2 linked regions of the Homo sapiens genome follow. The protein of the gene in region 2 interacts with the protein of the main gene of each other region in a biochemical or structural test. Each region holds a gene or a part of one and is shown on either strand. Other genes may lie near its edges.

Region 1 (15,799 bases), on a different chromosome or scaffold from region 2:
GACATTATGTAGGGAAATAGCAGCAGAGAATGGCTAATCTTAAAAAATAACGAACCAACCAACCAAAAAACAAAACAAAACAAGACCAACAAAAAAAAGTGCCATCCCACCCCTCCCCTTGGTTCTTTCATTTGGGGTTATATTAAAGACTCGAGCCTCTGAGAAAATCAGAAAGGCAAAGCCATAGAGGAAAACTGCTTCAAGGCCAGAATTTTGGGTAAGGTAAAGAAAAAGCTGTACATGAAAGCAGGGGACTGTTTGGAAAAGAATCAGAATCTCAAGATCTATTTTTCTTAAATGGGAAAGCTCTGAAACCCAGATCTCCGTTCTACCATCATCCTGATCCTTTAGTTATGGGGCAATAAACTCAAGTGCAATGAGTAAAGTGCCAGCCATGGATACAAAAACAAAAAATAAAACAAAACAACCAACCAAAATAACTCTGGTCTTAGGGTAATAGAAGACATACAGGAAAGGACTGTTTATAGAACACCTGAGGTTCTCAAGAAATTACTATTCAATGGTTCTGTTTTTGCTTACATTAAAAATCAGACTGAAGATTCAAAGATCTTAACTATTAAAGGATGAAAGGAATTTGACAGTGCTTTGAACAGTGATAAAATGGTACCCAAATTTGGTGTTCATATAGCTATTTAAAAAAGACAGTAGCTTAAAAGTTGCAGGAAAAAATGTGAACACAGAGAACAACAGAAACAGTCCAGGAAGATGATGCAGCCCGGACACAGCAAGTTTAATGTCTCTGCTGTACATAGAATTAAGACCCTTTCCCCCTCCTCATCCTTATGCTGGCAATAGGATATGCACTAGAAAATTTGACTCTTAGAGTCAATGAATAAAAGGATGGGCTCATACACCTTCATAGCTCTTTTCAAAAAGGATGCTTATAATTTAAAGGATGTCCTAATGGGAAGGAAAGGTACAGGGCAAGAGGCTGTTTCACATTTTAGTCCATTAGTCTTTGGCAGAGCCCAACCAAGGCCAAATTCACCTAGGATGCCCAATGGCTGTGGGGATCTCCACAGGGTCAAGTAAGCAAACCCAAATGAACATGTTGGATTAAAAAAAAAACAAGATCTAGAAACTCTTGAAGGAAGAGCTTCACCCTGAAAAGGGAAGAGGAAAATGCTTGAAGGGGAAGGGCGGAGGGTCAGTGTGTGATCTCTGCTGTGGTGCTGGGCAGGGGCTTAGGAGTTAAGCCAAGGGTGCCGGAGACACTCGGCGGCAGTGGCTCTCTTCTCAGGGATCAGCTCCAACATGGGCAGTAAGAAATCTGTGAAGCCAGCTGCCTCTTCCTGCGACCACTCATACTTCTCCACTAGAACCTCAAAAAGGCCCCAAGGTTTCAGCTTCGTGATATGTTTCAGGTCACCTGCAGTGAAGACAGTACAGAAAAAGCCACTGATCAACACAGACAAATGACAAGGTACTCTTGTGGAAACCCACAAACTAACCCATGTAGTCTATGAGGAATCAAATTTTGCAATCAGAATCTAATCCTTCATTCACAAAGCATTTCTTTTCTGACATATGCCTCAGAAAGAAGTGCCTCTATTCTTCATACGGCTCCAAAAATTTAAGGTAATTTGTTTTCTCCCCTATTCTAGGATTTTTTTGGTCCCAGTCAAACTGGGTGTGACAATCAAGAAGTAGGTATTTACTACTAAAATAAACATGAAATGCCTATGTCTTCAACATGGTCTTATATGGTGTGCAGAGACACTCTAGTACCACATACCGAGAATAATTTGCTTATACTCTTTTTTTGTGTATGTGCTCAATAGTTTAGTAAATGTTGCTTTACAGTGAGGCAGTAAAGTTAAAACATCATGTCAAGCATGGATAAAAGCAACAAAAAAAACCCCAAATCCTACACAGTTTTCAGATACAACAGCTTCATATACTCTATACCAGGGGTCCCCAACTCTATACCAATACCCCCTATGGTACCAGTCTGCGGTCTGTCAGGTCTGCACAGCAGCAGGTCAGTGGTGGGCCAGCAAGCATTACTGCCTAAGCTCCACCTCCTGTCAGCTCAGTGGCTGCATTAGATTCTCACAGGAGCGTGAATCCTACTGTGAACTGCAGTAGGGATCTAGGTTGCATGTTCCATAAAAGAACCTAATGCCTGACAATCTGAGGTGACACAGTTTTATCTCCAAACCACCCCCCAACCCCCCCATCCATTGAAAAACTGTCTTCCACAAAACCAGTCCCTGGTGCCAAAAAGATTGGGGACCGCTGCTCTACACTATACTGGAGTATCAACCTAATTGCTTCTTTGAAGTGACAACTTTTTAAAAGATAGTCAATTATTAATAGCTAAGGCAAATGCTGCTTTAAAATTTTAAGTTGGCCAGGCACAGTGGCTCATGCCTGTAATTCCAGCACTTTGGGAGGCTGAGTCGGGTGGATCACTTGAGCTCAGGAGTTCAAGACCAGCCTGGGCAACATAGTGAAACCCTGCCTCTACCAAAAATACAAAAAAATTAGCTGTGTATGGTGGCACATGCCTGTGGTCCTAGCTACTTGGGAGGTTGAGGCAGGAGGATCATTTGAACCTGGGAGGTGGAGGTTGCAGTGAGCCAAGATCGTGCCACTGTACTCCAGCCTGGGTGACAGAGTGATACCCTGTCTCAATAATAATAATAATAATAATAATAATAATAATTTTTTTTAAACATAAAAATTTTAAGTCTCTTTTGTGAGCAGTGAGTGCCTATTTGATTACCTACCTGGTAAACACACATGCCTTAATCTGACTGCACATGAGGAGGAACTCTTATGAAACATTTTACAATTTTCCCACCTAAAAAGAGGTTTAAGAAAGGGTAATGTTTCTGAGGATGGCTCCTGCCAAGGATTGAGAAAAGTCATTTTTCTCAGCACTTCTGTAGAAGTTGTGAGGAAAAAGGGAACCATGGCACAATGGGGGTAGAAAAACCAGACCATTTCCTAGATGCTTCTAGGTCAGGTTTTCACATTTCAGGTTTTTTTTGCAATGCTTAAGAAATATATTATCAAGTCAAAAATTGGAAGTTTTGTTTTTGTGGTTTTTTTTGTAATAACAAATACATAAAACTAAAAAGTGTGAAGTTCGTTTGTATGACTAATGTACTTCGAGTGACTGTGTTAGGTGTCACTGGGATGCAAAGATGAGTGAGATGTAGTCCCTGCCCTTATGTAAGAAGCTTAAATTACCTGCCCTTTGGTAGAGGCAGTTCTTAGACCAAACGCCAGCAAAAAATTTGCCCATTTTTCAGAAGTGCTATAGAAGTAATCAACCAACTGCATGCAGGCACTATACATATTAACTGTTAGTAAGAAGTATACTTTATTATTATCTCCATTAAGAAATCAGCAAACTGAGGCACAGTTAGATCCTGTCAAAGGTCACATGGCTAGTGGAGTAGCCAGGATTTGACAGTCTGGCTCCAGTCTCTGCTCTTTTTTTTCCCCGAGACAGGATCTTGCTCTGTTGCCCATGCTGGAGTGCAGTGGCAATCATGGCTCACTGCAGCCTTGACCTCCCAGGCTCAAGTGATCCTCCCACCCCAGCTTTCGGAGTAGCTGCGACCACAGGTGTGTACCACCATGCCCAGTTAATTAAAAATTTTTTTTTGTAGAGACAGGGTTTTCCTGTGCTGCCCAGGCTGGTCTTGAACTCCTAGACTCAAGTGATCCTCCTGCCTTGGACTCCCAAAGTGTTGGGATTACAGGCGTGAGCCACCATGCCTGGCTCCAGTCTCTGCTTTTTTTTTTTTTTTGTGAGACAGAGTTTCACTCTTGTTGCCCAGGCTGGAGGGCAATGGTGCGATCTTGGCTCACTGCAACCTCCGCCTCCCAGATTCAAGTGATTCTCCTGTCTCAGCCTCCTGAGTAGCTGGGATTACAGGCGCCCGCCACTCTTCCCAGCTAATTTTTTGTATTTTTAGTAGAGACGGGGTTTCACCGGGTTGGCCAGGCTGTTCTCAAACTCCTGATATTGTGATTCGCCCACCTTGGTCTCCCAAAGTGCTGGGATCACAGGTATGAGCCACCGCGCCCGGCTCAGTCTCTGCTCTTGACCACTTTTTTTACCTCTTTTTTATCTCTTTGCTAAGTCACAGGTTAGCATTCAAGGCAGGCCCATCATTCTGTAGGACATTGGGAATATGTGCTTACCTCTTCATTTTTAAACACTTCTGCCTCCTTAATGTCTGGGAACACATTTACTTTACCTTTTTTGGTGAAAAATTCCTTGGAATATTTTCCTGCCACAATGAGCTTGCGAGGCACCTTCCCCAGAAGTTCTATGATCAATGCAATGTGATCTGTATATTTCAAACATTTCAAGAGGGGGGAAAAAAAAGATCCGTAACAAGAGTAACAAATGCAGCTCTAGAAAACAGCAGAAGGAGCAGCATGCACATCTCTTTGTAAAGCCTATCAGGCTTACTTTCTATCCTAAATGGGAAGAGGAAGACTCTATCCATCTAATGGAGAATTCACAAAGTCAAATTTTTGTGGATTCAGTGATAACTAAAAACAATCTTGGTGTGAATGCTCTGCTTCCTGAAGTATCCCTGGGTCCTACATAACAATACTACCTCTGTGACTGAAGAAGTCTTGTGAATATTTCCCACTGAGGGAAAAGCGTCTTGGAATTCTGCCTATCAGCTCTATAATGTGCACAATGTGGTCTAAAATAGAAGGGTAAGAAGAACAGATCAAGGACAAGCTGTAAAAGAGGTTTTTCTATGAATAGCTTTTTCAAGGACTAGCTGTTTAAAAGTAACTACAAATAAAACCAAGGATACTGAAGGAAGACTGACTGGGAAGGCCAAGAATTATTTCAGGTGGTTGGTCACCCGATAGTGTCTGGCAAGTCCCATTCTGGATTTTGGAGGCTTATCTTCATCTTTAGTTCTATTTTGTCTATATATCTAGGTTCAGGTAGGTTCTTTAGGTAAGATAAAAAACTGTCCAAATATGTGTTAGGCATTCTAGAACTATTATTTGTGATCATTCTGTCTCAGCCTCCCCAGTGGCTGGGATTTCAGGCATGTGCCACCACACCTGGCTGACTTAAAACATTTTTTGTAGAGATGAGGTCTTGGCATACTGCCAAGCTGGTCTCAAACTCCTGGGCTCAAGCAATCCTCCTGCCTTGGCCTCCCGAAGTGTTGGGATTACAGGCCTGAGCCACCACCTGGCTGATACCCCATTTTAAAGATGAGAAAATAGAACTTCAAAAAGCATGAATGGCCTAACTTGAAACTTCAGGGCTAATATGAGCTAAAACTCAGATGAAAACCAATGATCTTATGTCTTGTCTAAAGCTTTTAATTTCTTCCTAAAATCACTTTTTAAAAGTAAAGATTAGCACAAACATTTTAAAGTATAGCTGCTTGATGATCTGTAAACATCACAGTATGAATATGGACCATGAGCACAACCAGGGAGGCATGCAGCCTCTTAACCAGGAGGTGAGTCTGGGACCAACCAGTACACACACCTCAGGTAGATCTACTGCCCCCCCCCTTTTTTTTTTCTCTCTGCAGGTGACAGAAGTTAAGAATATAAAACTTTTTTTTTTTTTTGAGATGGAGTCTTGCTCTGTCGCCAGGCTGGAGTGCAATGGCATGATCTCGGCTCACTGCAACCTCCACTTCCTGGGTTCCAGTGATTCTTGTGTCTCAGCCTCCTGAGTAGCTGGGATTACAGGTGCATACCACCAGGTCCAGCTAATTTTTGTATCTGTAGTAGAGACAGGGTTTCACATGTTGGCCAGGCTGGTCTCGAACTCCTGACTTCAAGTGATCTGCCGCCTTGGCCTCCCAAAATGCTGGGATTACAGGTGTGAGCCACTGTGCCTGGCCTGTATTTTTTGTAGAGATGGGGTTTTGCCATGTTGCCCAGGCTGGTCTCAAACTCCTGGGCTCAAGCGATCCACCCACCTCAGCCTCCTGAAGTGCTGGGATTACAGGCGTGAACCACCACACCCGGGCATAATACTCCTGGCCAGAAAAAAAGCTTTAGAAAATACTTTTATCGTGTAGTTACAGAATCATTAAGGTTTAAACTTCCAGTTATGTATCTTATAGGGGAAATAACATGCTAGAGACGTCCATATTATCTGGGAATTTGTGAAGGTTTCAGGTTTTATCTTTCTCATGTAAAGGAGTTAGTGGTGTCATTTAAAGGGGACTTCACATTTATGACTTCCCTACAACCTTTGAGCAGTTTTGACTGAATTTATGGTTTGGTAACAAGTACCTGCATGCCAAGAATTTTCTGCTGGTTTTTGGCAGGACCTGCAAATGTGTTTTTACCATTAACAATAACAAAAATAAGAATACTAAGGAAAAACTTAGACTATAATTTCTAAGAGAGCTTCTTAAAGTTCTTAGAAACTTAAGTAAACTTCCAAGTAAAATATTGGTCCTTTAAATATTTTTCCTATACCAAGGAATTCCCTTGAAATTGTTACTTTACACTTAATTCTTGCAACCTATTTTGGCTTATGATAGGATTGATATACTTGACAGATAAAATTATCAGGTATTATCCCATGAGTTAGGGCTGTGGAAAGCCAGAGTAGAGGACATGGTACTCAGGCTTCTGTCCTACCACGACTCGTAACAAACTATGCACACACTAGTCAGGGGTAAGGGTTTGCTTGTTCCTGCTCTTATAGGTCAAACTGCAGCAGAACAGCATCGGTGGGGCTGATGTTTGACCTAAGGACTATTAGTACTAACTGGTATAGGATGGAATAAATTAGAATTTAAACATCTAGGGAAGATGGTTTTTCCTTGTCCCCTTATTTGGGACTCTGCATATGTATTAAAATTTTCAGGTTTGGTAGCATAAGGTAACACCCGATATAATTCTAGCCACTATATGTGTTCTGTACCACACACTACCATTTATGGAGAATCTAGGGAAGTAAAGGGGAAAAAAATTAATTACCCTCCCAAACAAACATAGTAGGTAGTCTCTAGGCCTATAATCCCAAACACTGTAAGCCTATAACCCTAAACCTATAACCCAGAAAAATAGCAAGCAGAGAGTAGGTAAAATCAAGTAGTAATTATAGTATCCTCTAACATGGGGCTTATATATACAAAATATGTCCAAACTCTACCCACTTAAATAGGCATTCATGGGAATTACATAGCATAGCATTTTCCAAATGGTATTCATTAGGAATATTAGCAGGTCCTACTAACATTACCTATTAATATCCCAGAAGACCACATTTTGAGAAACAAAGAGCACTCTTGGTTCCATACAGCATGAAATATGCATTCCCAAAGATTCAAGGAAAGCACAAAAAGTAAAGAACATGCTCTACATTGGGAGGGTAGATGCTGTAGTGATATCTCAAAATAATCCTCATTAATCCTACAACTAAAACATAAGCTGCCTCAACTGTATAAAACATTTTCTTGGCTGAGCGTGATGGCTCACGCCTGTAATCCCAGCACTTTGGGAGGCTGAAGTGGGTGGACCACGAGGTCAAGAGACAGAGACCATCCTGGCCAACATGGTGAAACCCCGTCTCTACTAAAAATACAAAAATTAGCTGGGCATGGTGGCACAAGCCCGTAGTCCCAGCTACTCGAGAGGCCGAGGCAGGAGAATCGCTTGAACGAGGGAAGTGGAGGTTGTAGTGAGCCGAGATCGCACCACCGCACTCCAGCCTGGCGACAGAGTGAGACTCCGTCTCAAAAAAAAAAAAAAAAAAAAAAAAAATCACAAAACCATTTTGTTTGTTCATTCAAATTATTAACTCATTTAGTTATCTGGATGCCATCATAATAGAAAAATCAGACACACACAGTTGCTGCTTCCACAGTCTCTCAGACAAAGTAACTGGCAGCCTAGGCTTTTCCCACTGGCTACCACAACATGTAAATCCATTCTACTTTGTTTTAAAATGGAATTCCAAAAAAGAAAAAATTAGTTTTATATTCAGAAAAGGGAAAAAAGAATGCTAAATTTTGGCAGAATTTATAGAAATAGGATATAGTCTCTGCATTCAAGTAGTGTGTGTATATTAAAATAACTGACCTCTAAATAAATTTGGAGGCATAATTGAGCAACAGGTTGATGAGCAGGTAAAAAACTGGGTAAAGAATGAACCACTGATATATACAGAAAGGAAGATAACTAGATGTTGAAGAAAAAATTGTCCAGCACACAGAAGTTTTAGGTGAACTGTGGCCTTTTGACTCTGACAGAGCTCTTTAGTATCTTTCAGAAAATATCTAAAAACCTAATATAAAATGTCTTTTATATTTCTAACTTTTCTGGGATTTACATGTTTTGCACACTAACAAGACTAAGGCTCTTCGGTACTAACAAATGATGTTAGCTTAATGTGGAAAGTGTAAATACCACGCACACACATCCATGGTTAAGGGGACTCACCTTCATCTCGAGTGTACTCTTCCCCTGAATGAGGTTCAAACAAATAGTCACCTGTGGCCAGTTCAAAGGCCTAAAAAAAAAAGAGGACAGTATATGAAAGCACAAAAGAAAAGAAGGCCTTTGGAAAGCTGATTGCTATTTGGCTCAATATGAAGTAACTCTTGTTCCCTTGGGAAAACTTATAGATCATTTAAAAAAAAAAAAAAACAAAAACTTAAGATTATTCCTAAAGCATTCCTTCCACATCCCTATCTTAATAAAATGGAGAAAACAGCAAAGACTCAGTAAATACTAACATGTGGGTTATTTCATGCCCAAACCTCCCCACCCTAAACCCTAGCAATTCAGCCCTCCTGAGTTTCCCTTTTTTGGCCGGAAAGGGGCATACCTGGATATTAAGGTGATTCTAAGTTATTATTCATGAGAAGAACAGGTCTTTTTTTTTTTTTTTTGAGACGGAGTCTCACTCTGTTGCTTAGGCTGGAGTGCAGTGGCACGGTCTCGGCTCACTGCAAGCTCCGCCTCCTGGGTTCACACCATTCTCCTGCCTCAGCCTCCCGAGTAGCTGGGACTACAGGTGCCCACCACCACGCCCAGCTAATTTTTTGTATTTTTAGTAGAGATGGGGTTTCACTGCGTTAGCCAGGATGTTCTCAATCTCCTGACCTCGTGATCTGCCAACCTTGGCCTCCCAAAGTGCTGGGATTACAGGTGTGAGCCACCACGCCCAGCCCAGGTCTTTCTTACATTATAATCACACATGGCTAGAAATTGAGATTCTGTACCAAACAAAAAAAATCAAAAAAAAAAAAAAATTCAGACTTCTACTTATGACTCTTTAGTGTTTGACAAGTACATCATTAACTTTTGCATAGGAAGTACTCCCTAGATTGTCCCAGATGGGAAGTTCCTGATTCCTAGGTCCTTTGTTTTTGAGATGGAATCTTGCTCTGCCGGCCAGACTGGAGTGCACTGGCATGATCTCAGCTCACTGCAACTTCTGCCTCCTGGGTTCAAGTGATTCTCCTGCCTCAGCCTCCGGAGTAGCTGGGACTACAGGTGCATGCCACCACGCCCAGCTAATTTTTGTATTTTTAGTAGAGATGGGGTTTTACCATGTTGGCCAGGATGGTCTCAATCTCTTGACCTCATGATCCACCCGCCTCTGCCTCCCAAAGTGCTGGGATTACAGGCGTGAGCCACCATGCCTGGCCAATTCGTAGGTCTTTAGAAAATCAGAAGATTAAGTGTAAAGGGAGTCAGGAGCCTAGCCTATGTGACTGGCAAGTCAGCACTCCCTAATTAGGAAAAGAAAAGCCTGTCTCCTTTAATAGAAAAACCTCTTACAGTGCTCGAGAGTGTCTTAGGAAATGATATCCTTGGGAATAAGTGCCATGCAGAATGAAAAGCAGGGCTACATAAATCCTCACTGATTACAAATGGAGTTTTAAAAATTAGTACACAACAGCAGTTTTTTTTTTTTTTTTTTGGATGGAGTCTCGCTCTGTCGCCCAGGCTGGAGTGCAGTGGCACAATCTCGGCTCACTGCAAGCTCCGCCTCCCAGGTTCATGTCATTCTCCTGCCTCAGCCTCCCCAGTAGGTGGGACTACAGGTGCCCGCCACCAAGCCCGGCTAATTTTTTGTATTTTTAGTAGGACAGGGTTTCACCATGTTAGCCAGGATGGTCTCGATCTCCTGACCTCGTGATCCGCCTGCCTCGGCCTCCCAAAGTGCTGGGATCACAGGTGTGAGCCACCACGCCTGGCCAACAGCAGTTTTAAAAAATGACCTTATTGATAGGGAAGCACAGTTATAAAATAAGCGCTAGTCATAGGTCAATTTTGATTAAATCAATGGTACTAAGCAGTCCAAACAACCTCAAGAACTGTAGAGTCCAGGACTTAGTTGGGGCATATTCTCAATTTAGACCCAAGTTTAGGTCCTGGTGGCTCACCAGTGTCAGTTTCTGCAGTTTCATGACAGAACAGCCTTTCTCAAAACTGTACTACCGTCCAGAGGGAGACCACAAAACCAGAAGTTTCAGGATAGGTTTAGGAATCAAATACTATCTCTAAATGTCAGCAGTGCTATGGCTTCTTGCTTGGCATTGCTTATTTTACATTTCAGTTGTTTATTAAGAAACTGAACCACAGTGATAGAGCAGATACTTGTTCTACCCTGAGTTGTTCCGAGGTTTATAGTCCCAAAGCAACAGAGAAACAAATCATGATTCTTGTTCACCAAAACTTGTCAATCATTCCTGATACCAGTACTTTAAAAAAAAATCTCATGGTCTCATATATAGAGTTCAGTAAAAATACTGAAATTAAAGTTAAAAAAAACAAAAAACAAAAAACACAGAGCCAGCCGCGGCAGTGCTATACGCCTGTGGTCCCAGCTATTCAGGAGGCTAGAAAATGAAATACTCTTCAGTGCTAAAAAGAAATGAGCTATTAAGCCGTGAAGATATGGAGGAACCTTAAATGCATATTACTAAGTGAAAGAACCTAATCTAAAAAGGCTACATACTGTATGATTCCAACTATTTGACATTATGGAGACAATAAAAATATCAGTGGTTGCCAGCGAGTGGGGGACGGGAGGGATGAATAGGCAGAGCACAGAGGAGTTTTAGAGCAGTGAAACGATATTGTATATAATAATGATAGATACATTTGTCAAAACTTCTAAAAGAGTGAAATGAAATGTAAACTACTGACTTTGGTTAATAATGATGTGCCAATGTAGGTTCATTGTTTGTAACAAATGTATCACTCTGGAGCAGCAGATCGACAGTTGGGGAGGCTCTGTGTGTGGGGAGCATATAAAACTTATTTGTACTTTTTGTTCAATTTTTCTGTGAACCTAAAACTGCTCTAAAAAATAAAGTCTATTAAGAAACAAACCCAAATAAAACCAGTGTACCATCCTTTGTTAACCTTCTCTAGACTATTGCCTTTGAGAAGAATGGCTTAGAAGATAGCATGAAATGCATGGAAAAGTTAAAACAATGACAATTTAAACAGACTAATTACATTCAGATCCAGAAGTAAATTGCAAACTCCAGGTAGCAGAAAGGAATACTGACACAGCTTGAGGGGCAATCTAGCATTTCATAAGCAATATGGTTGTGTGTGGTCAGAATGCCAAGGAGTGATTACCAAACAGAAAATGAGGAGTTTCAGGTAAGAGCTGTTTCTATAAAGTAACATGTCCATCATCTGTATCAATGGGCTGGCCAATGGCTGTCTCAAAGTGAGGAAGACAAGTCAGAGTCCTGATGCTTGGCCTTCTGCAGAGATGCAGGTGTGCTCAATGTATTAACTTAAGGGCCCTTATCTTGACCCCAGGTTTGACCACATTAAGAAAGGCTGAAGTGCTGGAAATGTTATTTTAGAAAAAAGGAATTAACAGATGATTCAAATTTCCTGTCTTCAACAATCCATACCAAAGGGAAGTAAAATTCCAGAGCAGGGCTGGAGGCTGGAACAATAAAGTCTGTTTTAAATTTAAAAGGTTGCCAAAGAATAGGGGAAAAGGGAAACACGGAGTTTTTCTTCAATGGTATATAGAGTTTCAGTTTAGAAAGATAAAAAATTTCTAAAGAGGCCAGGTAGGGTGGCTTACACCTGTAGTCCCAGCACTTTGGGAGGCCAAGACGGGAGGATTGCTTGAGCCCAGGAGTTCAAGACCAGCCTGGGAAATACAGTGAGATCCCATCTCTTAAGAAAAAAAAAAAATCTAAAGATATGTTGTATAAAAATTTGAATATAGGCCAGGCGCAGTGGCTCATGCCTGTAATCCCAGCACTTTGGGAGGCTGAGGCAGGTGGATCACTCATGCTCAGGAGTTCGAGACCAGCCTGGGCAACATGGTGAATCCCGTCTCTACCAAAAATACAAAAAAATTAGCTAGGCATGGTGGCACATGCCTGTGGTCCCAGCTACTCAGGAGGGTGAGCCGAGATTGTACTACTGCACTCCAACCTGCGTCCTGCATGACAGAGTGAGACTGTGTCTCCAAAAAAAAAAAAAAGACTAAAAAAATCAGAAATGAAGAAATGAAAGAGGAGACATTATAATGAATACCACAGAACTACAAAGGATAAGAGACTACTATGCACAATCATATGGCAACAGATTGGATAACCCAGAAAAAAATGGAAAAATTCCTTGACAATATAACCTACAAAGATTGAACCATGAAGAAATAGAAACAAGAGATTAGATCTGTAATAAGAAGTCTCCCATCAAAGAAAAGCCCAGGACCTGATGGCTTCACTGCTGAATTCTACCAAACATATAACGAAGAAGTAACAGCAATCTGTCTCAAACTGCCCCTGCTACTGCCAAAAAAAGACAAAAACCATATGATCATCTTATTAGATGGAGAAAATGCATGTGACAAAATTCAGCATCCTTTCATGATAAAAATGCTCACACAATTAGGTATAGAAGGAATGTACCTCAACACAATAAAGGCCATATTTAAGAAGGCCACAGCTAACATTGTACTCAATGGTGAAAAATTGAAAGCTTTTCCTCTAAAATCCAGAACAAGACTCTCCCCACTTCTATTCAACATAGTATTGTAGTATTGGCAGTCCTTACTAGAGCAATTAAAAGGCAGCCAAACAGAAAAGAAAGAAGTACAAATGTCAGTTAGCTGATAACATAACTTTTTTTTGGCAAGATGGAGTCTTGCTCTGTCATCCAGGATGGAGTGCAGTGGCACAATCATGGCTTGCGGTAGCCTCAACTCCGGGGCTCAAGTGATCCTCCTTCCTCAGCCTCCCAAGTAGCTGAAACTACAGGTATGTGCCACCACATCTGGCTAATTTTTTCATTTCTTTTGGTAGAAATGGGGTCTCGCTATGTTATCCAGGCTGGTCTCAACTCCTGAGCTCCAGTGATCCTCCTGCCTCAGCTTTCCAAAGTGCTGGGATTACAGGCATAAGCCACCAAGCCTGGCCTGACATGATCCTATATATAGAAAACCCTAAAGACTCCAGCAAAAACCCGTTAGGACTAATAAACAAATACAGTAAAGTTGCAGGATACAAAATCAACACACAAAAATCAGCAGCATTTCTGTAAACTAACAACTATCTGAAAAATAAACCAAGAGAACAATCCCATTTACAATAGCTACAAAAAAAAAATACTTAGAAACATATTTAACCATGGAGGTAAAAGACCTGTACACTGAAAACTATAAAATGCTGATAAAAGAAATTGAAGACACAAATAAATGAAAATATATCTTATGTTCATGGTTTGGAAGATTTATTTTTATTTTATTTTTTTTTTTGAGAGAGGGTCTTGCTCTGTGATCCAGGCTGGACTGTAGTGGTGTAATCTCGGCTTACTGTAACCTCTGCCTCCCAGCCTCAGGTGATTCTCCCACCTCAGCCTCCCAAGTAGCATGCACCACCACACTTGGCTAATTTTTAAATTATTTGTAGAGATGGGATTTTGCCATGTTGCCCAGGCTGGTCTCACACAATCCATCTGCCTTGGCCTCCCAAAATGCTGGGACTACAGGTATGAGCCACTGTGCCCGGCCTTACTATTGTTAAAATGTCCGTACTACTCAAAGTGATCTATCAGATTCAATGCAATTCCTATCACAATTCCAATATTATTTTTCATAGAAATAGAAAAAACATCCTAAAATTCACATGGAATCACAAAACATCCCAAATAGCCAAGGCAATCATGAGCACAAAGAAGAAAGCTGGGCTGGGCATGGTGGCTCACGCCTGTAATCCCAGCACTTTGGGAGGCTGAAGTGGGCAGATCACTGGAGCTCAGGAGTTTTGAGACCAGCCTGGGCAACACAGGGAGACCCCACCTCTACAAAAAATACAAAAATAGTTGGATGTGGTGGGGCACACCTGTAGTCCCAGCTATTTGGGAGGCTGAGATGGGAGGATCACTTCAGCCCAGGAAGCGGAGGCTGAAGAGAGCTGTGATTGCGCCACTGCACTCCAGCCTGAGTGACAGTATGAGACTCTGTCTCAAAACAAGAACAAAGCTGGAGGCATCAAACCACCTGATTTCAAACTATACTACAAAGCTACAGTAATTAAAACAGCATGGTCCTGGCAAAAAAAGCAGACGCATAGACCAAAGGAACAATATAGAGAGCCCAGAAATGAACCCACGCATGTATGGTCAAGTGATCTTTGACAAAATTGCCAAGAATACAGAATGGGAAAAGGATAGTCTCTTCAATAAATGGTGTTGGAAAAACTGGATATAAAAAGAATGAAACTGGACCACCCTCATCTCACTCCGAATACAAAAATCGAAATGGATGAAAGACTTAATAAGACCTGAAACTGAAAAACTACCAGAAGAAACAGGGGGAAACCCACATGACATTGGTCTGAGCAATGATTTTTTTGGATTTGACCCCAAAAGCCCAGGGAGCAAAAGTGAATACAGACAAATGGGATAACATCAAACTAAAAAACTTCTGTACAGCAAAGGAAACAATAGTGTGAAGAGATAACCTATGGGTTGGGAAAAAATATTTGCATGCTATACATTTGATAGGGGTTAATATCCAAAATAATATGGAACTCAACTCAATAGCAAGAAAACAAACAAACAAACCCAATTAAAAAACAGGCAAAGGACCTAAATAAACATTTCTGAAAAGAAGACACACAAATGGCCAACAGATCTATTAAAAAAAAAGCTCAACATCACTAATCATTAGGGAAATGCAAATTAAAACCAAAATGAGATATCATTTCATATCTGTCAGAATGGCTGTTATCACAAAGACGAAATATTTAGTGTTGGTGAGGATGTGGAGCAAAGGGAAGTCTTGAATGCTGTTGGTGGGAATGTAAATTAGTACAACCCTCATGTAAAACTATATGGAGGTTCTTTAAAAATCTAAAAATAGAGTTACCATATGATCCAGCAATCCCACTTCTGGATATTTACCTCAAAGATTTAAAATCAGTTTGTCTAAGTGATGTCTGCATTCCCATGTTCACTGCAGCACTATTCACAATAGCCAAGTTATGGAATCAACCTAAGTTGATTTTAAAATCAATCTAAGTTGAGTCTATACAGATCAGATAAACAGACAATAAAATGTGGTATATACAGGTTGCTCCAAAATCCAAAACTGACATGACACGCAAAGGAAATGCTCATTTGGAGCATTTCAAAGTTTAGATTTTTGGATTTGAAATGTTCAGCCAGTATGTATTCTGCAAATATTGCAAAATCTAAAAAATTCCCCAAACTGAAACTGGTACCAAGTGTTTCAGATTAGGGATATTCAACTTGTATACACAATGGAATGGAATACTATTCAGCCTTAAAAACAAGATGGAAATTC
Region 2 (16,640 bases):
ACTATGTAAAATGTTACCCACCTACCGTGATCACAGTTCTCGCTAATCAAAAAATGAGGCACAATCTCACAAAGAACACATTTTCTCATTTGTAAATTTGCGTATCAATTTACAATGGCTTTAAAAATGCATTTAATTGTATTTTTAACAAATTGCCTTTATTAAAAACAGCAAACTATAAACCAGACTGGGAAAATCAAGGATGTACAATTAACATGACTATAACCCAACAATAGGAAGAAAAATAATTCCAAGTCTGTAATGAATAAATTTGGGGGTTATTTAGCTTTCAACTCTTACAGCTAAAGTACAAATGCATACCAAGTAACTCTGCCAACCACCCACCTAAGCCAGGGTGGTTGCCTTCATCCAAGCTCACTTCTCTCAAGCCTACAGCAGCCATCAACCCCCAATTATAACATTCTTTTCCTCTGATTCAAAACATGGCCCACAAGCCCCACAATACTCTAGGAATCCACAAGCAATCTGCAAGAACTGCCACTTACGTGAGGCCTGTCTGCCACCCTTTTTGAAATATCAATTGATAGCTGGGTACTTCCAGCTGCCAGACAGTAATGCCGCTCCATCGGCTGACCAGCGGAATCACATTTCCACACAACAAAACCAGGGCTGCCGACCTTCCCCAGTACCACATGAACTAGCTGGGGCCACGTCCAAGGGGCAGCCAGTAGGACAGATATGAGCTGTCTCCCAAATCACCTTCATTTCACCAACTAAGCACTTCTTGATGTATTGTCCAAGCCTATCAATGTACATTCCTCACTGGCTCCTGTTAAGAGCTGATGATACAATAAAAGCAACATTTAGGAACCTTTGAAGACTCTGGAATTAAGGAGAAAGTTGAATTACCTACCCCAAGGGAGTAGTGGGAGAGTGGGGGGGGAGGCGGGGTGAGGGAGGCCTTTCTTAACCACCACATTTTTTCACTGTTAATCGTCTGTGAAAAAACTTAACAAGCTCTACTAGTTTACAGAGATGGCAGCTAGGTTGGTAGATGAAAGAAAACACAAGTACTTATCTGGTGATTAGAGGATGTCAGTCAATTAACACATTAGGTAAGAGAGGCAGCTTTCTTCCCTACACCTACCTGAGATTGGGCATCACTGGGGTAATGAATGGGTTTGGGCTTGGAGTAGTGGGGAGGAGCCCACAAGTTTTCGGGATGAAGTCAGGCCTGGCTGAGTCACCCGAGGGGCACTTAGGGAGCAGGGGGGCAGTGAACACCTCTGCATGAGCAGGGGCATAAAAACGGAAGGTGACAACATCCAGCTTTGCCTATTTCAACATTTAGCTCAGAGCCTCCAAGTACAAAGAAAGAGGAAGGAAATGTACCCTCCTTCTCTCTTCTCTTGAGCCCCCTCCTCCTCCCTAGGCCCCCCAAAATCAAACCACTCTTACTAGTACTAGCTCTCCTACACTGGTCAGCCAGAGTTAAAAGAAGGCAATTATGTCTTCCTACAGGAAGATGCTCAAGTTGCAAAAAACTCTTTATAAACTTTTGAAACACAAGCCCTTCAGGACGCAGGGGCTACTTGAGGTTTTAAAAGACCCTTGAACAGTTTCTGCGTGTTCTTAAAAACTTATTTACTGGCATCTTTCCATTGCACTTACACACCACATACACAGTATCTGTGTAATATAAACGCAGGCCAGTGCCAAAAAGATTCTTATCAATTATTCTGGGTTAAACAAGTTAACACATATGGTGGATACCTGTTAGGTCTCTAAAGCTTACTTTTTAAAAGAAGAATTAAGATTTGCTTGAAAAACAAACAAAATGAACCGGCATTCTTCTTAGAAGACCATTATCTTATACACAAATGTTCCAAAAGATGAAGCCAACAACATGATGTGCACCCCCACTTTACACAAGATCCACACACAATTGTCAAACGTGAGGATACAGTGCAATCACATCCTAATATATTCCCCCACAGGAGTGAAATAGCCAGGATGGCACACAAAAGCCCCACATTTGTTCGTGTCACTCACTATGCACTCACCTACAGGAGTCAAGATACACACAGGATTTTCTTACAAGAGATGTTTTAGGCAAGTGTGTTTGTAAAGAAAAATTTTGTTCACTGCACCCAATGTCCTCATTCGCCATAAACAGGAAAAACACGGAGACCCTCAGGTTTTTCTCTATTAAGCCAGATGCCCGCTAACTTCAGAGTCAACTGGCACTGCAATCCTCACACATTCCAGCTCCGGTATGTTACTGTTTGTGAACACAACAATTCTCTGCTCATTAACATTACAGGGGTCTCCAGCCATCTTTCCTTCACTTCTCCAAATTCATCTAAACGTGGCATAGAGCAAGACGCTCGAATGACGTTGGACAGCTTCCTTTTCACACCTGAGCCCCGGTAGCCCCACTAGGCAAAATGCAAACAGGAACCCCGGGCCTTGCTCCGCGCCCTTTGCTTCATGAAGCAACAGAAAGGCCACCTTCCTGGCTGTAAAGGCAGAAGCGCCTTCTTCCCCATAAACATCCTTGGGCAGCTCATCATTCCCCTCCTGCTCGTTCTTCTCCCTCTTCCCAGGCAGCCTGAGAAACAAAACTTAAACTGGACTTGTTGCCTAATCTAAATTAGGATCCCTCTGCTCTTCTCCGTAGCTCCATCTTCTCCCACACACCAGTTACTACAATGCGTAACTACAGATCTACACGTGTTTACGTGCAAGGTCCCCGGGGGCCTGTTCACCCTGGCACTGCCCAGGCGCCGCGCCTCGCGCTGCAGGTGTCCACGCGCGGACCACGGTATCTACCGCGCCCTCGTGTGAACACCCGACCGGGCCCCGTAATCACTCTGGGAAAGCGCCTTCAACAAAGCCCTCCGAAAGCAAGTGCTTTACTAAGTGCCCCTTGAGGCTACTGGCAGTGCGAGGCTGGCTGTCATTAGAACATTTTTCTGAACCCTCAAAAAGGTGAAAAAGCAGGACCGTGCTTTAGCAGGAACACGCACACCCGCCTAAATACCCGATTTTTGAGACTGTCCGGGCGAAGGAATTCAACGCATAGGAGCGAGCAGCCATGCAGTGTGCCTGGAGAATCACCAAACCGCGACGACCACGACCCTCAAAGCCAGTGACAAGCAGCGCGAATCTAAGCCCACCTCGGCCGCAGACCCTTCCCCGTCCCGCCAGGCCGCCGCGCCCTGTCAGCCTCCTACTGCAGGACCGCGGGGCCGCCTGCTCATCTGTCAGACGGGCGCTCGGAGGGGCCGGGAGCCAGGCTGCGGTGGGGCAGGACAAAGGCGCCCACGAACCCTCCCTGCCGCCGCCGCTCCACAGCCGCGCCGCGCCGCCAACATGGAGGGAAACGTCCGCAGTTTAAAACCCCCAGCTCCATTTCCGCAGCGGGCCCGGCTCGGGCGAGCTCCAGCCTCGCCCGCCGCCGCCCCGACCACCCGACTGGGCCAGAAAAGGCGAGGAGGGGAGGAGACGAGGAGGCGAGGAGAGGAGGGGAAGGCCGCCGCGCCAGGCCCCGCGCCCAGGGTCCCCGGCCCGGCCGCTGCGCCGGCCTCGGGCTTCCTCCCCCAGCGGCCCCTCGAAGAACGCGCCGCGGGGAGCTGGGAGCAGGGCGGGGGTGGAAGCACTCACCTGCGCCAGGTTCCGGCGGTGACACGGACGGCTCCCGGAGAATAGTCGCACAGCAACCCGGCGGCAGATCCACGCGCGCGACGCTACCCGGCCGCGCTCTCGCGCCCCGCAGTCCCGCAAGCCGGGCGCGCGCCTCCCCGGCCCCGCCTCGCGGCGCTTCTCCCCTCCCCTCGCCTCCCCTCCCCACCGGCGAGGCCGCCCGGGGCTCCCATTGGCTCCTCGACCTTTTGAATCATCCCCGGCGCTGTCGATTGGTCGCGCGCCGTGGCGCGTCCGCCCCGCCCCACCCTGCCTGGGGGCGGGGAGGCCGGTGAGCGGGGGAAACCGAGTCTGGCGGGGCGGCCCGGAGCGCGACGTTTGCCACCGCCTTATCTCAGCCGCCCAGGCGCCCTCGCAGCACACGGAGCCCGCGCGCTCCCGCCCTTTCCCTCCCAGCGCTCGCAGCAGTGTTTGGGGTGCCAGGTGGCTTGGCGAACGAGATTTTTTTTTAAGCTACAAAGAAAACTAATACATTCTTGAAGTGATCACCAAAGATCCGAGCTCGAAAGCGTTTCTCGGTAAAACACTATGAGTGCCCTCCTTAGCGTGTTAAAATCCCACAGAAGCCCCTGGACCAAGCAGCGGCATCGAAGGCGAGCAGGGGCGCTTTTGTGTCCGCGGCCGCTGAACCTGCGTAGAAGCGAACCCGGACCGATGCTGGGACCGGCGGCGGGAGGGAGGGGGAAGAATGGCCGAGGGCTCCTACGACTTACGCTGCGAGGAGGGGCTCGGTTGTTACCCGAGATGCTGTCGAGATGCAGTAGAAAATCCCCAACACCGCGGAGCGTGGAACAAGAAGTTTTATGCGTTACACACCGAAACACAACTTGACCTGCAACCTACAAGCCTGGTTTTAATTGAACCCCAAAATGCTGAGTCATGTCATTGTTGACTCCGAATCTGTTACGGATCCTAAGCTTTTTTTTTTCTGCTAGTTTTCATTATCGGTTAGTTGATTTCCTTCCTTTGAGGTCGAGAGTTTAAAGCAGTCCATTGAAGTTCCCTATTTTGCAGTGTGGTTTTAATCAAAGTATTTCTTAACACCCTAACTAGGTATATTTAAGTGAATTGCTATTTTGGAAGCATTATTAAATTGTAATAATGAATAGAACTTTTCATCTATAGCCTAGCTTCAGCTTTCATTTTCTCATAGAACTACAAAACACCCAGGTTTACTTCTTAAAAAAAAAAAAGTGAAAATACATCGAGTTTTCTCAGTCATTCACATGCAGTGTGAATGAGTTCATCAGAGCCTTTCCTGAGAAGTTCTGACATCAAATTGTCATTGCCATCGAATTTGCCCTTGGTGGAGATCTGTGCAACAGAAATGCACATCGCACTCCAAAGTCAGAAAATCTTTTATTTTTGACAAACCCCCAAGTCTCAATTGTCTTAACCCTTGACATAAGATAATATTAGTCCTACCTCATAGAGTTTTGCAGTAAATTACACAGAAATAAAAGCGCTTATGGGGACCTAAGACAGATCCTATCCCAAATAGCCAAGCAGTGAGTGCTACACTATTCTTTTCTCATATGTTCTACCCAGAATCAAGATTTCACTGGATTTCCCTTGAGGTGCACATTTCCTGGATGATTTCCACTTGTGAAATAGAAGAAGATTCGTTTCAAAAAAAAAAAAAAAAACACCTGGCCAGGCGCCGTGGCTCACGCCTATAATCCCAGCACTTTGGGAAGCCGAGGCGGTTGGATCACCTGAGCAGGAGTTCGAGACCAACTTGGCCAACATGGTGAAACCCCATCTCTACTAAAAAAATACAAAAATTAGCTGGGCACGGTGGCGAGCACCTGTAGTCCCAGCTACTCGGGAGGCTGAAGCAGAAGAATCGCTTGAACCTGGGAGGTGAAGGTTGCAATGAGCTGAGATCATGCCACTGCCACTCAGCCTGGGCAAGAAGAGCGAAACTCTGTCTCAAAAAATAAATAAAATAAATTTTTAAAAATTTTAAGAACCTTATTTTAAAGATCAGGTTTATAAAGTCTCATCATAACAAAATGAAGCCAAAACTTTGTAAATTAACTAGAGTTAGCTTAGCTAACATTTTACCTAATAAATTACTAATGACATTTTTAAAACAAAACTGATTTGACATCAGGAAAACTAAGCAATAATTTTTGTTCATTTCTACTTCGTGGACTCAAACATACCATGAACAATCAGATCTATATGTAGGCTGCTTTCTCAACAAAGGAACTGTTTGGTATTTTTCTCTTCTTTTTTAAGTCTACTAAAGGCTGTGTAAACTTGGAAGTGGGGAATTTTCAGAAAGTTCTCAGAAAGATGCTTGTCACTCACAACTAGCAAGTTGTGGGTTTTCAGAATCTATAAAGTAAAAGTCACTTAAAAGTCCGCATCTTGGCACCATTGTTGTTAATGAGGCCATGAGTGGCAAAGCCCCTTTCCCCATTCACATAACAAAAGCAAAGCAAAACCCTTCAGTCCTGCCACTAAAGCCAACCAAAACACACATGCGGCCAGGAAGCTTTCATATATAAAATACAGGAACCCCCAGCGGAATGCATTCCAATGTGGCAGTTATTTGGCTCTGGTCTCCAGAGGATCTCGGTTCCCAGGATTGAAACATCTCTTTCAGGAAAGACGTGTAGGTAAAGTTTCACGTGGCGTGAGATCCAGTTGGATTCTTTTGGTACTGTTACATAAGGAACAAACTTCTGTATGCTGCAAACTGCAGAAAGCCTTTATTCATAAGGTAGAGGTACCTCAAAAGCTGTCCGATAAAAACACATTTCTACTGATGATGTTTGATATGGTTTCTATTCACACAGAAATGGAGCTCACAATTAACATGATGCATTATGTCCATCTCAATAGCAATTTAAAAATTATTTGAAACTTCTTCTACATACTATATGTATGTTTGCAGCACTTATCCTCTTTTTTTTTTTTTTTTTTTTTTTTGAGATGGTGTCTCCCTCTGTCACCCAGGCTGGAGCGCAATGACACGATCTTGGGTCACTACTGCCTGTGCCTCCTGGGTTCAAGCAATCTTCTCACCTCAGCCCCGAGTAGCTGGGATTACAGGTGCACGCCACCATGCCCAGCTAATTTTTGTATTTTTAGAAGAGATGGGGTTTGGCCGTGTTGGCCAGGCTAGTCTCCAACTCCTGACTGCAAGTGATCTACCCACCTCGGCCTCCCAAAGTGCTGGTGAGAGGTGACAGCGTGCTGGCAGCCCTAGCAGCCCTCGCTCACTCTCTGCACCTCCTCGGCCTCGGCGCCCACTCTGGCCGCTCTTGAGGAGCCCTTCAGCCTGCCACTGCACTGTGGGAGCCCCTCTCTGGGCTGGCCGAGGCCGGAGCGGGCTCCCTCACCTTGCGGGGAGGTGTGGAGGGACAGGCGTGGGTGGGAACCAGGGCTGAGCACTGGGCTTGCAGGCCAGTGCAAGTTCCAGGTGGGCGTGGGCTCGGCAGGCCCCGCACTCGGAGCGGCTGGCCGGTTCCGCAGGCCCCAGGCAGTGAGGGGCTTAGTACCCAGGCCAGCAGCTGCGGAGGATGCGCTGGGTCTCCCAGCAGTGCCGGCCTGGCCCACCAGCGCTGTGCTGGAATTCTCGCTGGACCTCAGCTGCCTCCCCGCAGGGAAAGGCTGGGGACCTGCAGCCTGCCATGCCTGAGCCTCCCCCACACCATGGGCTCCTGAGCGGCCTGAGCCTCCCAGATGAGCGCTGCCCCCTGCTCCACGCGCCCGGTCCCATTCCGACCGCCCAAGGGCTGAGGAGTAGTGTGGGCACAGGTCGTGGGACTGGCGGGCTCCCTGATGCAGGATCCACTAGGTGAAGCCAGCTGGGCTCCTGGGTCTAGCGGGGACTTGGAGAACCTTTATGTCTAGCTAAGGGATTGTAAATACACCAATCAGCACTCTGTGTCTAGCTCAAGGTTTGTAAATGCACCAATCAGCACTGTGTATCTAGCTAATCTGGTGGGGACTTGGAGAAACTTTATGTCTAGCTAAGGGATTGTAAATACACCAGTCAGCACTCTGTGTCTTGCTCAGGGTTTGTGAACACACCAATCAGCCCCCTGTGTCTAGCTCAAGGTTTGTAAGTGCACCAATCAGTGCTCTGTGTCTAGCTAATCTAGCAGGGACTTGGAGAACCTTTATGTCTAGCTAAGGGATTGTAAATACACCAATCAGCACTCTGTGTCCAGCTCAAGGTTTGTAAATGCACCAATCAGCACCCTGTGTCTAGCTCAGGGTTTGTGAATGCACCAATCAGTGCTCTGTGTCTAGTTAATCTAGTGGGGACTTTGAGAACTTTTGTGTCTAGCTCAGGGATTGTAAACATACCAATCAGCACCCTGTCAAAACAGACCAATCAGCTCTCTGTAAAATGGACCAATCAGCAGGATGTGGGTGGGGCCAGATAAGGGAATAAAAGCAGGCTGCCCAAGCCAGCAGTGGCAAGATGCTCAGGTGTCTTTCCACTTTGTGGAAACTTTGTTCTTTTGCTGTTTGCAGTAAGTCTTGCTGCTGCTCACTCTGCATCTGCATTGCGTTTATGAGTTGTGACACTCACTGTGAAGGTCTGCAGCTTCACTCCTGAGCCAGTGAGACCACAAACCCACCAGAAGGAAGAAAAGTCTGAACACATCTGAACATCCGAAGGAACAAATTCTGGACACGCCACCTTTAAGAACTGTAACACTCACCGTGAGGGTCCGCGGCTTCATTCTTGAAGTCAGTGAGACCAAGAACCCACCAATTCTGGACACACTGGGCTTACAGGCATGAGCCACGATGCCCAAGCCTATTTAAACATTCTCAATATTAAACATTTATTTGTTAATACATAAATTAGAAGGGGAAACTATTTGAATAGATGGAGCAAGTATACTGCTTCAGTGGAGGAACTTAGAAGATGTGGGATATGTGTGCTTTAATGACTTGTTGATAGAGGGAAAACAGCAGCAGGATATGAGGTAATAATAATGATAAATAATCTTTGTTCAGTTTTTACTTCGCCCCCAGCTGTTGCTCAAAGTGCTCCCTGTGTTCTAACTGATTTACCCTCATAAAAGCTGTCCCAGGTAGGTGATCTTATAGCTGAAGAAACTGAGGAGGTATGGGGAGGTTAATACTTCCCCAGACTTATCCAAGGCAGTGTGATTCCATTGTCTCCCAAACCAACTAGCAAAGTGCAGGAGTTCTCAAGGTATGGTCCCTGCTCAGCAGCAGAGCTTCTCCTGGGGGCTTGTTAGAAATGCAGCTTCTGGCTGGGTGCGGTGCGTCATGCCTGTAATCCCAGCACTTTGGGAGGCCGAAGTGGGCGGATCACTTAAGGTCAGAAGTTCAAGACCAGCCTGGCCAACATGACAAAACCCCATCTCTAATAAAAATACAAAAATTAGCTGGGCATGGTGGTGCATGCCTGTAATCCCAGCTACTCAGGAGGCTGAGGCAGAAGAATCACCTAAACCCAGGAGGCGGAGGTTGCAGTGAGCCGAGATTGTGCTGCTGCACTCCAGCCTAGGCGATAGAGCAAAACTCCATCTGAAAGAAAGGAAGAAAAAGAAAGAAAGAAATGCAGCTTCTCAGGTCCGCTCCTGAAGCTTGAAGCTTGGGGTGGGCTCAGCCATCCAGCTCTCCAGAGGATTCTGATAGAAGCAGGCTCCAGTTGGAGAACCTCTGGCGAAAAGATAGGTCATGGTGACCGTAATGATTTATTTTCCTTCACGGTTTCCTATCTGAGGCTTTAAACCACTTACTTGATTTATAGAAAGGAATACTAGAAAGCTGTTCTGAAGCTTGTGCAGCACCCGAGTGTCTTCCCAAAGGACTGATGATATGTTGAGCCTTAGATTAATAAGAGTCCATACCTGCTGGCCAGGCTGAAGAGACTGGCCAAGAGGTAGGGGGGTAGGGAGAGGGGGCTGTCAGGGATGGGAGTGGCTGCCACCATACAGCCTTCTCCTCCTCTCTGGCCAGAGCATCATGAGATTAACTGCTCTGGCAAAGTGTGCTCTCTTGTTTTGGAAAACTATTTCTTTACTGGCTGTAGAATTAATGTATTCTGAAAACTTCTAAGGAAATTTACTTTTTAAAAAATAATAATAAAGAATTAAAACTAAGGGTAAAGGACATTTAAACTGAATGAGGACACTGAGAATCAGAAAGATCACACAGTGTGTGGCAAGCTGTGCTTCAAACCAAGTTTTTCCGGACTCCAAAGCATATGTTCTCATCATAGGTTCTAGAGCAGGCACCTGCGTTAGCAAGACGGTCAGATGCATAAGCACATGCAACCTTGATTTACGTTACTTATTGCCAGCCAGAAAGAGGAACAGAATTCAGTACCAGAATTTACTAGATTATAATTCTAGTGAAACCAGGTCTATGTTGCTTTTGTTGATAGTTCTTGGCACATAATAGGTGACTATTTGTTGAATTAATTGATTGATTTGGTGATCGATTGATTAGGTGGAGAGAAGGAGGGAGACAATTCTAAGATTGATCCAACACTCAGTACAAGGAGAAATTAGTGAAGACCAGCCTGGCTGGGGTGGAGTAACAGCTCATAATAGGAAAAAACTATGAGAATGATGTCAATATCATTCGATCTATCAAAAGATCCTCCTACCTCAACTAAAGGGCATAGAGTGACCATGGAAGTGACACTGGGCCAGGAATGCAGTGTCTGAAGCTCCAGGGCTGCCACTCAGCCCTTATCCAGCAAGTTATCCAGGTCCTGATTTCCTCATCTGTAAAATGGGGATAAAAAGTACCCATTCTGGCCAGGTGCGGTGGCTCACACCTGTAATCCCAGCACTTTGGGAGGCCAAAGCAGGCAGATCACTTGAGGTCAGGAGTTTGGCCAGCCTGGCTAACATGGCGAAACCCCGTCTCTACTAAAAATACAAAAATTAGCCAGGCGTGGTGGTACATGCCTGTAATCCCAGCTACTTGGGAGACTGAAGCAGGAGAATTGCTTGAACCCGGGAAGCAGAGGTTGCAGTGAGCCAAGATCCCTCCACTGCACTCCAGTCTGGACGACAAGAGTGAAACTCTGTCTCAAAAAAAAAAAAACAAAAAAGTGTACCCATTCTGCACAAGGTACACTAGGTAATTGTGAGGATTAAATGCTATATACCTGTTAGAACATATCAGGCAATCATAACCCTTAGTGTAATCATTTTATTTCAAGTTCGTTAAGTCACCATTTTTAGTCAACTATAAATAGATGAAAGAGTGTTTTCAGTAGCAGATGTGTCAATAATGTTTTAATGCGTTTGTTGTTTTTTCTCTAACCGCCTAAATCCTTTGAATCATCCTGTAGTGCACACTTCAACATAAAAGACGTAACTTCGTCTTTTCTTCCATGCTACTCTAACTGAAAAATCTAACCCGCTGGATTAATCTTAAAACTTAAAGGTCCTTGGACTGTTCAGGAAGTGATTATTATTCACATTTATTTTAATGTTTGCTAATTAATAACTGTTTTTTAAAATTCGCCTAAAATGCGTTTGGATAGGTAGAGAGTCCTGAAATATTTATCTGCAGGAAAAAAAAATCAAACTTAGTAACATGACACAGACAAGGCCTTCAAAAACTCACCCTAATGGATTTCTGGTAGGCTCAACATCCTCTTCTCTTTCCAGCACCTGCCTTCTCTTTCCCACCCCCTCCACCCTCAGTTCTACCAAATTTCTGATGAGTCCTCAGATAAGCCTTTTCCTCTCTTGTTGCTTGGAATGCCTCCCCCTTCTTTTGAGAGTGGCCTGTTCTTGCTCATCCCCAGCAAAACTTCCTAGGGCAGTCCCCACATACATCTGTCACTGCCTTCCCATGTTATGGGCATCTGCACTCCTCCCAGGCAGGAAGTATATTTAATTTCTCCTTGTATCTCTCCCCATTAAGTAAATGAATGTGTTCATCATGAAACTGTGTCATATATGTTCTCCTAAAGGTCAGAAGGTAGTAAACGCTCTTGTTCCAGTTACTGAGCTGCCACAGGCTGGACTGAGGCAAGAAGAGATAAAGCCTCCGCTGGCACTGACTGTTCCCACCGGCTGGAGAGGTGCGGAAGCCTATCTTCGGTGTCTCTCTTGCTGTCTGCCACAGGCTCACAGCCCCATGGTGGGGACTCTGCTGTGCTTAAATACCCTTTTCTCCACCTGGGTTGCCACCATCTCTCTTAATTCAGAATATGTAACTAAATGTTTCTTTTTAAAACCTACAGGGAACACAGGTGCATGGCTTGTTTTGGCATGGTTGCTAAAACTGCGAGTCCCAGAGGGCAGCCTTCTTCCCCACCTCCCACCCAAAGTCTACATTCAGAGGCAGACGGGGGCTCAATTGTGGAACAGAAAGTACCATCTAGGTAACATGTAATTACCATGTTGCTTCCCTTCTGGACAAGATAAGGCTCAGCCCATCAGTGTTAATGTTTAGCACTTCATGTCTGTTCAGCAATTGCTCCCACTCTATCAACAAAACTACACCATACCCTTTAGGAAAAGTGTGTAGCAACTACAGTTGGCATCAGAACAATGGAGAAAGAGAAGGAGAGGGAAGGGGACTCATTTCTAATGAGGCCCTGTTCTGTGTCACTTACCAGTCCTTACCTTATTTATGGCTCAAATCAACTCAACAAAATAGGCATCACCCCCTCTTTCAGGACGAGGAAACTGAGACTCAGGTCAGCAAAGTTGCAATACAGCGCACCCACCAAATTGGGGCTGGAAAAGAAATTCTAACCCAGTTCTCTGGATTCCAAAGCATATGTTCTTTCTACCCTCCAAACCCATTAGGGTCCCCAAGCAGCCTCTTAGCTCCCTTAGCCATTGACTTCCGGTCGCCACACACAATTCATATTACATGATCCCACTGTCAATGTCAGCTGGAGACATCCCAGGCTAATGAGAATATAGCTTGTGGGCGTTTTGTCTACATTTCTGGAGCAAAGAACACTCATCCCTGCTCTCTCAAAGAGCACCATGCATGTGAACTTGTCCTTGTCTCTCACCCTTTGATTCTTTCTTCCATGGCTGGTCTATTTTAATTCTGATACCTATTCTGGATTCTGTAGGACTGTCTTTATGTCTTCCTTTCCAGGGACTATCTTAGAATATTCACTTGTAGGTATGATATCAAGGGCAGGATCACTGTAATCTTTGTAGTACACTTAGTACAGTACCCAATGTGATTAAATCTGTTTAAAACACATTTAAGGGGAATAAAATATAAAATATTTGAGATGAATATTTAAAACCAAATTTGCATAATTGTTTTAAATTTTTTCATTTTACTTGAGCAAGAGGTACAACATAAAACCTATTTGGAGCACAGTAGTGTATTGAATCATTTTAGTCATAACACACACCTACATAAATGACTAAAAATATCAATATTTTATCCTTTTAAACAGATGACATATAATTGCAACGTAGATTTATTTGAAAGTTGTACAGAGTTGGCTTGATAGTTATTCAACAACTGTAAGTATTAATTGGCATGAGTATTTCAGCAGAAAAAAACTATATATTCATACTAAGTTGCTGATGATATTTTGCTTGCTTACTTTAGATACAAGAGGCTAGGATCCCAGAAATTTCACTGCTGTAGCAAAGCAAGTCATGTTACTCTGAATTGACAGTTCCCAGTCATTCTCCACGGTAAGTCATATTGCCAAACACAATGCCATTTTTAGGTCTACTTTAATCCTATTTGACTATACAGATATGGTTTTTATTTACTTAGTCCTATGGTTTGAATGTTTGTCTTCGCCAAAATTCATTTGAAATTTAGTTGGCATCGTAACAATGTTGAGAGGTGGGACCTTTAAGAGGTGATCAGGCCATGAGGGCTGCACCCTCATGGGCGGCATTACTGCCATTATAAAAGGGCAGGGTCAGCCCCCTTTCATCTCTTGGCCCTTCCACCTTCTGGCCATGGAGTGACACAGCAAGAAGGCCCTCACCAGAGGCAGGCATTTAGTGCTGTTCATTATAAATTACCTGGTCTGTGTTATTCTGTTATTCAAAAATGTCATTTCTGCAAATATATAGTTCCTCCCTTTTTAAAAAAAAGTTCTACTTCTTTTTTCTATTTTACTTTTACTGATGTTTTGTGTATTCATCTTCCTGGTCCTATAGAGAACTCCTATTGCTCCGTAAGTCAAGGCCAGAACTCCCATCCTGACCAGAAGGAAAGATGCCCAGTTCCCACATCTCCTTTGCTAGGCCTGCCAGAAGGGGGCTCCTCCTCCTGGCCAAGGCAGGCTAGTCAGATCCCTTTGTGTTCATTTTTAAAAAGAAGTGCCATATCCTTAAACATACTTCAGCTGTCCTTGTGCCTGCTGGATAATGTATGAGCTTCTGGAAAAAATTCTTCAGCACTGAACATGAATTTAACAGGATATCGCTCCCTTCTTAAGGTTTTCAAATCATAAAGTCAGATTAGGGATTCCCATTAATAATTAGTCCTCTTTATTACACTCAAAAGGACAACATAAATTCCTGTCAGTTACTTTGAAAATACTTTGCTCATTAATACCTACTCAAACCAACGATAAATACTACTTACAAAAATTCTCTCCTTAACAAAACTCCACCCAGGCTCCTCTCAGCCCTCTTCTCAACTAAGTGCTATCCTTGGACTATAAAGACTTGATCAGGCCGGGTGTGGTGGCTCACGCCCTAATCCCAGCACTTTGGGAGGCCAAGGTAGGTGGATCACCTGAGGTCAGGAGTTTGAGAGCGGCCTGGCCAACATGGTGAAACCCCGTCTCTACTAAAAATACAGAAATTAGCCAGGCGTGGTGGAGCATGCCTGTATTCCCAACTACTTGGAGGCTAAGGCATGAGAATTGCTTGAACCTGGGAGGCGGAGGTTGTAGTGAGCTGAGATCATGCCACTGCACTCCAGCCTGGGCAACTGCCAGAGCGAGACTCTGTCTCAAAAAAAAGACTTGATCAAATGCTAGCATAGTTTCTAACAGCTCAAGGGCCTTCCCTAGGATGGCCCTAGCCCCTCTTAGAATGCCTGCCTGAGAAAACTCGAGGCTGCCCAGGGAATTTACTGTTGGTTCCAGCCAACACCTGAAGACAAGGCCCCCATCTCCCTGCCTCTGTGGGAGGGTAGGAGCCTAACTTCCATAAGCACCAGTAAGTAAACAGATGGGTTGCACATGGACCAACCCCCACTTCCTGCATTTTATAATTTTTTTCACAGACCCTCTTGAGCCCCTGCTCACCCACTCCCTATTCCCTCATCCTCCCTTTTTTTTTCTGAGACAGAGTCTTGCTCTGTCACCCAGGCTGGAGTGCAATAGCGCCGTCTCAGCTCACTGCAACCTCTGCCTCCCGGGTTCAAGCGATTCTCCTGCCTCAGCCTCCCAAGTAGCTGGGACCACAGGTGCATGCCACCATACCCGGCTAATTTTTGTATTTTTAGTAGAGACAGGGTTTCACTATGTTGGCCAGGCTGGTCTCGAACTCCTGAACTCGTGATCTGCCTGCCTCAGCCTCCCAAAGTGCTGGGATTACAGGTATGAGCCACTGCACTCAGCCCATCCTCCCTTTAAAATGCCATCATCTCTGTACACATTGAAGTTGAGTTTGGAGCACACTGGACTTTTTTCCCTATTGCAATAATAATAGTATATTACTGATGAAAGTCTGTCCTTACCGAGTATCCAGGCTTGTTTATCTTTGATACTACCAATCTTCTTTTACTAAAATAAATATTATGATTTCTAAATTTTTTAATCAACTGAGTTATATCAGATATGCTTAGCCAAAGCATGTAGAACCCCATTGAAATTTTGATTTAGCATGCATCCACTAGATTAAGAATTATTGCTCTAAGAGTCTAAATGTATTTGCATCATGCATTTTTTTCAGTACAACATAAAATGGCTTCATATATAATATAGTTCAAAATGTTGTTAATTTCTTCAGGCCAAGGAACATGCAAACAAATGAAGAACTCTTCCGATTTCCTAGGGAAAATACGGTTTGAGGATGGCTTAAACATAAAATATTAACAGGAGTTAATTAACATAGAAGCAAGCTGTTACCTCAAGTTGCTTTCATCTCAGCATAATTCAAGGTGGAAGAGAACTGAGCTTCAGAGTCTTCTCTTCCATGGATTGTCCTTTGCAAAGCAAGAAAACATTTTTCCAATGGTGAATGTGTTAGTAAATGCCAGTGAAGCTATAATTAAGTGATCTGGGTTTCCAAGGAGGAAAGTGAAGTTTCAAACCATGTTTACTGTACACAGTTTTTCAGGGCAAGTACTTTGGACACATAAGACACATAAGCTTTTTTTTTTTTTTTTTTAGGGGTCTTGCTGTGTTACTCAGGCTGGAGTGCAGTGGCAATCATAGCTCACTGCAGCCTTGAACTCCTGGGCTCAGGGGATGCTCCTGCCTCAGCCTCCGGAGTAGCTGGGACTGCATTTTTAAAAAGTATAATGCTACATCTACCAGGAAAATAACTCAGGTGGAGGATGGCTTTTTTCCAATGAGAGTCCATGATTGAAAGAGTTAGAGGAATCCTAACTAGCAGAACTGAGTAACAGAAAGCACATGGACTTTGGAGTCAGAAACACCTGCCTTTGAATCCTGGCTTCTGCGCCTGCACTTGAGATCTTAGGCAAGGTACTTACATTTTATTTTCAGACTGTTTCCTTATCTGTAAAATGAGAAAACTAATAATACCTGCCTTTCACAGAGCTATTGTGGGGCTTAAATTTAACAATAAGCAATCAATAAATAGTTCTGATTCATTGCTTTAACCATTCATTCATTCAGCAAATATGTGTCAAACTCTGACAGTGGAAGAAATTTAAAACAAATTCCAGGACTGCCTGGGATTTTTATGTCTATCAAATGGGATTCAGGTTAGTGAGGGAGAGTGAAGAAATGAAGTGCACTGTTCTTGAGGAATTATTTAAAAGGCTTTTCCAAGAGGATCTACGTGGCTGTAGGACATTTA

What was found.
Region 1: of the proteins of LBR (region 2) and SRPK1, one has a biochemical effect on the other in vitro, tested with the Homo sapiens proteins (one study listed by IntAct).

The regions. Positions count from the first base shown.
Region 1 is NC_000006.12:35,834,099-35,849,897, forward strand, and holds part of SRPK1 (SRSF protein kinase 1), read right to left. Parts: exon of another isoform or gene 13,706-15,799; intron 8,507-13,705; coding exon 8,437-8,506; intron 4,332-8,436; coding exon 4,239-4,331; intron 1,391-4,238; coding exon 1,206-1,390; 3' UTR 1-1,205. UniProt on the Homo sapiens protein: Serine/arginine-rich protein-specific kinase which specifically phosphorylates its substrates at serine residues located in regions rich in arginine/serine dipeptides, known as RS domains and is involved in the phosphorylation of SR splicing factors and the regulation of splicing.
Region 2 is NC_000001.11:225,424,327-225,440,966, forward strand, and holds the start of LBR (delta(14)-sterol reductase LBR), read right to left. Parts: upstream 3,713-16,640; 5' UTR 3,628-3,712; intron 3,567-3,627; exon of another isoform or gene 3,005-3,566; intron 1-3,004. UniProt on the Homo sapiens protein: Catalyzes the reduction of the C14-unsaturated bond of lanosterol, as part of the metabolic pathway leading to cholesterol biosynthesis.